Linked DNA regions of Homo sapiens: region 2 is linked to region 1. The links come from fine-mapping of genetic effects on gene expression. Tissue or cell type: whole blood. Region 1 holds a variant in brackets; the other region holds the start of a gene. All regions are shown on one strand. Distances are between the middles of the regions. Region 1 overlaps HAUS4 (HAUS augmin like complex subunit 4). Region 2 holds the start of PSMB5 (proteasome 20S subunit beta 5).

Region 1 (2,500 bases):
GCTATGTGACATTTACTGGATACCCACAAGGCGCTAGGATAAGGGAGAGGAAAGAGATTAGGGTAAGGGATAGAGGGCTGATAACGTGAGACAGAATCCCTTAAGATCCACAGGGGTCACAGCTCACCTCAGCTTAAGGATCATAGCACCGCACTTGACTTCCAGGTACTGGGCATTGATGCGGTCTAGCTCGGATTGAGTCTTCAGCCGGTGTTCTTGAAGAAGCCTCTGCAGCAAAGTGAGGCAGCGGAGAAGCACCTGAGCCCAAGATGGAGGAAGAAGAGGGCATAAATAAAGATAGTAGAAAGGAGGGTAGATCAGGAATCTTTGTCTTCCCCAAAAGTGCTCCTGGGGTCAGGATAAAGGAAAGGGGCTGTCCCATGCCCTGATAAACCTGGGAGTAAGCAGCACTCTTCTTCTCCAGCAGCAACATCTGCTCCTTCTGCTGGCTCTTGGCATCCTGGCACTGCTGCTGCTCACCCACCAGGACCTCTGCGAGTTTCCACACCTTTGCTGCCTTCACGGTTTCACTGTCAGCATCTGAGCAAAGGGGCAGAGGACTGACAGGAAAACCCTAATCGCTACAATCCCTGTAAAGCAACCTTCCAGTGCCCCTATCCTGTATCTAGACCCACAAATCCTGCCTTATGACAGGTTTTCTTCTAATAATCTATTAAAAATGGCCCCATTCTGGGCTGAGCATGGTGGCTTACGCCTGCAATCCTAGCACTTTGGGAGGCCAAGGCAGGAGGATTGCTTGAGCCCAAGAGTTCAAGACCGGCTTGGGCAACATAGTGAGACTCTGTCTCTATAAAAAAAATTCTAAAATATTAGTTAGGCATACTATGCGCCTGTAGTGCCAGCTACTTGAGAGGCTGAGGTGAGAGGATCACTTGAGCCCAGAAGGTCGAGGCTGCAGTGAGGTGTGATTGTACCACTGCACTCCAGTCTGGGTGACAGAGTTTTTAAAAAAAAAAAAGCGGGGGGGGGGAGGGCATCTGGTTCTCATAATTATTAAATAAATTATCTTCACTCTTACCTTTGATTCCGGATTTGGACCTTAATTCTTTTTATTTTTTTGAGACGGAGTCTCTCACTGTCACCTCGGCCGGAGTGCAGTGGCGCGATCTCAGCTCACTGCAACCTCCACCTCCCAGGTTCAACCAATTCTCCTGCCTCAGCCTCCCAAGTAGCTGGGATTACAGGCACCCGCCACTACACCCAGCTAATTTTTTGTATTTTTAGTAGAGACGGGGTTTCACTATATTGGCCAGGTTGGTCTCGAACGCCTGACCTCATGATCCACCTGCCTCGGCCTCCCAAAGTGATGGTATTACAGGCGTAAGCCACCGCGCCCGGCCCGGACCTTAATTCTTAAGTCATAGAAATGGTTTAAGGAGACCAAGTGTGGTAGCTCATGCCTGTAATCCCAGCACTTTGGGAGGCCAAGGCGGGCAGATCACCTGAGGTCAGGAGTTTGAGACCATCCTGGCCAAC[A/G]TGGTGAAAACCTGTCTCTACTAAAAATACAAAAAAATTAGCTGGGCAGGGTGGCAGGCGCCTGTAATCCCAGCTACTTGGGAGGCTGAGGCAGGAGAATTGCTTGAACCTCGGAGGCGAAGGTTGCAGTGAGCTGAGATCACGCCATTGCACTCCAGCCTGGGCGACAAGAATGAAACTCCGTCTCAAAAAAAAAAAAAAAAGAAATGGTTTAGGGAGGAAAGTTCAGACTCAGGTGTTAAGCTTTATTATTTTCGTAAAAATGATACACATTCAGGGCCAGGCACAGTGGCTCACGCCTGTAATCCCAGCACTTTGGGAGGCCAAGGTGGGTAGATCATGAGGTCAGGAGACTGAGACCATCCTGGCTAACACGGTGAAACCCCGTCTCTACTAAAAATACAAAAAATTAGCCAGGCGTGGTGGCGGGCACCTGTAGTCCCAGCTACTCGGGAGGCTGAGGCAGGAGAATGGCGTGAACCTAGGAGGTGGAGTTTGCAGTGAGGTGAGACTGCGCCACTGCACTCCAGCCTGGGGGACAGAGCGAGACTTCGTCTCAAAAAAAAAAAAAAAAAAAAAAGAGATACACATTCATTCAGGGTGGTCAGACTCAAATAAGAAAATCATTACACAGAAGCAAGTAAAAGCTGAAATATGAATACTACGTCTAGAAACACATTATTATAAACAGCTTGACATAAATGGTATTATACCCTCCAAGCTTATACAGAGAGTATAAGGTGTTCTATGAGTCTGAACTTTCCTCCCTAAACCATTCTGAACCTCCTGAGAGAACTCATCCTTCCCTGCAGCAGGAGGACACTCCCACTCAGTATCTTGCTGAATAAAAAGAGTCCTTACAAAGGTCCTTGTTTTGGCCGGGTGTGGTGGCTCACACCTGTAATCCCAGCACTTTGGGATGCCGAGGCAGGCGGATCACCTGAGGTTGGGAGTTCCAGACCAGCCTAATCAACATGGAGAAACCCCATCTCTACTAAAAATA
Region 2 (3,017 bases), 86 kb after region 1:
CATGGTGCCCATGGACAGCCCCATGCCTTTGTACTGATACACCATGTTGGCAAGCAGTTTGGAGGCAGCTGCTACAGAGATGCGTTCCTTATTTCGAAGCTCATAGATTCGACATTGCCGAGCCAACAGCCGTTCCCAGAAGCTGCAATCCGCTGCGCCCCCAGCCATGGTGCCTAGCAGGTATGGGTTGATCTCTATCACCTTCTTCACCGTCTGGGAGGCAATGTAAGCACCCGCTGTAGCCCTGGAGTCAGCTGCAACTATGACTCCATGGCGGAACTGTTAAGATCAGAGGAAAACACAAAACAGGCCACATAAGACCACAAAAACACTCCTACATACTTCTTTTTGCATCAATCCAAACCCAGCACATCTCTTTCTCCGTCCTTTTATACTTCACAGTATACTTCTATACTTCACCATATATTAATGTCACCCGAGCTTCACATCAATCCCTTGACATGGATATAACCCATATTAAATTCATTTTATAGGATGGGCGTGGTGGCTCACTCCTGTAACCCAGGCATTTTGGGAGACCAAGGCGGGAGGACCGCTTGAGGCCAGGTGCTGGAGACCAGCCTGGGCAACACAGGGAGATCCATCTCTACAAAAAGTAAAAAAACTTAGCCTGTCGTGGTGGTGTGTGCCTATAGTGTCAGCTACTCTGGAGGCTGAGGCGCTGGAGCCACTGCACTCCAGCCTGAGCGACAGCGAAAAGCCCTGTTTCAAAAAAAAAAAAAAAACAAATCATTTTATAGATGAGGAAACAGGTTCAATGAAATCAAATGATTTCTCAATCTAGAGCTAGTTATTGCAGAGCTGGGCAAGGAACCCCAAATGTCTGATTCTTAGTACAATGCTTACCCTCACCACGCTTCCCCTTCATGCCAGTTTCAGTTACCCCTGCCTTGAGGGGCCGCCCAGTTTCCAAAACTTTGGTAAACGTTTACAATAGCCTTCCCTCGGCCAAGATTCATTGTTGTTGCGGCCTTTCCCAGCTAGAAGATCCTGAACAGCAGCAACCTGGGGTCGCCTAGGAATCAACCCAAGAGGCCTCACCTTCCTCCCCCGACTTACCCCCGGCCCCACCGCCACCCTTTCCAACCAGAGCAAAGACAGGGGCCTCCTGGGCCAATGAGACAGCAAAACTGCTGCGGTCCGAACGAGAGGACCCAGCCTCCGCCTGGGTTGGTGGCCAAGGCCACCGCAAACTCCGGTCAGGCTGGGAGGCCAGGCAAGTCGCGGGCGTTCAGTACTCAGCCTGGCAAGGGGGCTGGCTCCACACCTTGAAGGCCAGGGTGGTTGTTCCATGAAGCATTTCGATTCCTGGCTCTTCTGGGACACCCCAGCCTGGCGCGGCCAGGCTCAGACCATCACTGAGACTCCCTGGACCTAGATCCAGCAGATCTGCACGACCCCCAAGTCCGAAAAACCCGCGCTGGTTCACCGGTAGCGGTCTCTCCAACACGCTGGCAAGCGCCATGTCTAGTGTGGGCAGAAAGAACTAATTCTGAGAACGCCTAGCAAAGATAGGCCGGGCAACGCCTCGCCGTCACAGCTTCACTTCCTATTAAATCTATTCCGGAATGGAGCCATTTTGACTGCTGGCAAGCACGCCTCCAAAAAGAAGAGCCAGATGCGAAAGACCATTTTCACTGAAGGGGGTCGGGGAAATAGATGGCTTCACTAACCTTAAATTCTAAAAGGACGTACCTGCCATCTTGGCTTTGGTCATGCAAGTAGTCCTGGATCAGAATAACCTCAAAATCACAGGAAGTGACTGAAAACGTCCATGTTGCGTAAGGGAAGTGAGGTCGGCCATCTTTGAGAAGGGCGTGACTGGTTGAAAATCGGTTCTGAACCCTTAGCGGTGAGTCCTCCCACTCCAGCCTGGTGTCCAAGCAACAGGTTACATCGCTGCTGCTTCAGCACCTTGTTAACGCGCCTGAGGTTGCCATCTTGTTTAAGGGCACCTTCTAAAATTGGGTAAAATAATGATCCATTCTGAGGCCATTTCCCTATATTAGTTAAACCACAGCAATTAGTGGTAAAACAACGCAACAAAATAAAAGTGCTATACCTCTTGTTGTCAGTCGCCATACAGCAACCCTTCTTTAACAGTAACCGGTTATTAATATCCAATATTCGTTCTCTTGACTCCTACCTTCTGGTGGAAATTCGAATAAGTAATGAATTGCCTAAAAGGCAGATGGAAGAAGAAAAAGCAAAGGGTCCAGTTAATCCACAAACTAGATTCTCAGTTCAGACCTGAATAAGTGTCAGTAGTAATTTACCATCTCAGAGACGGGAGGACGGTTGAGACTGCATAAATATGTACCAAGAGATTCTCTAACTTCAACTTGCTAAGATGATGCCTTTTATTCAGGAACATACTATATTTCATTGCCTCTTCCTCCCTCCACCCACCTTCATTTTTCAAATCTTTTGGGAACTATAACAAACCGGGAAGTGTGCATATGTATGAAATGTTGCCTCCTGCTTTATGGTTCTATGAAGTCAGTCTCTGGCCTTCCTTGTTGGATTCTAGCAGCAACATCTATCAACACCGAAATTCCACTTTCCTCTGATGCCCAGTTCGGCCCCATCTTTCCCCCAGCAGACTCTGCATATGCTGTATTGTTTTTGTTTGTTTGTTTGTTTGTTTTTTGAGACCAAGTCTTGCTGTGTCCCCCAGGCTGGAACACAGTGGCACGATCTCTGCTCACTGCAACCTCTGCTTCCCAGGTTCAAGCGATTCTCCTGCCTCAGCCTCCCGAGTAGCTGGGATTACAGGCGCCTGCCTCCACAACAGGCTAATTTGTGTGTGTGTGTGTGTGTGTGTGTGTGTGTGTGTGTGTGTGTGTGTTTAGTAGAGACGGGGTTTCACCGTGTTAGCCAGGATGGTCTTGATCTCCTGACCTCGTGATCCACCCACCTCGGCCTCCCAAAGTGCTGGGATTACAGGCATGAGCCACCGTGCCCGGCCTCACGCCTGGCTAATTTTTGTATTTTTA

Evidence for each region. PIP is the estimated chance that this variant, and not a neighbour inherited with it, causes the effect.
Region 2: it holds the start of PSMB5, and the variant in region 1 is the best candidate, but not a certain one, in a credible set for the expression of PSMB5 in whole blood (TOPMed, PIP 0.56).

Annotation. Positions count from the first base shown.
Region 1 is chr14:22,947,474-22,949,973 of GRCh38, forward strand. It overlaps HAUS4 (HAUS augmin like complex subunit 4), which reads right to left. Exons shown (of 10, transcript NM_001166269.2): 7 at 395-540; 8 at 128-258. The region is part of intron 2 of PRMT5-DT (PRMT5 divergent transcript); the gene reads left to right. Among named protein-coding and RNA genes, the nearest start is that of MIR4707, 8.3 kb to the right of the region's middle. The variant A/G (reference allele first, on the strand shown) is at 1,498.
Region 2 is chr14:23,033,396-23,036,412 of GRCh38, forward strand. PSMB5 (proteasome 20S subunit beta 5) reads right to left here and starts at 1,505. Exons shown (of 3, transcript NM_002797.5): 1 at 1,289-1,505; 2 at 1-279. The coding sequence starts at 1,486. RefSeq lists enhancers at 1,231-2,430, 1,231-1,900, 1,685-1,979.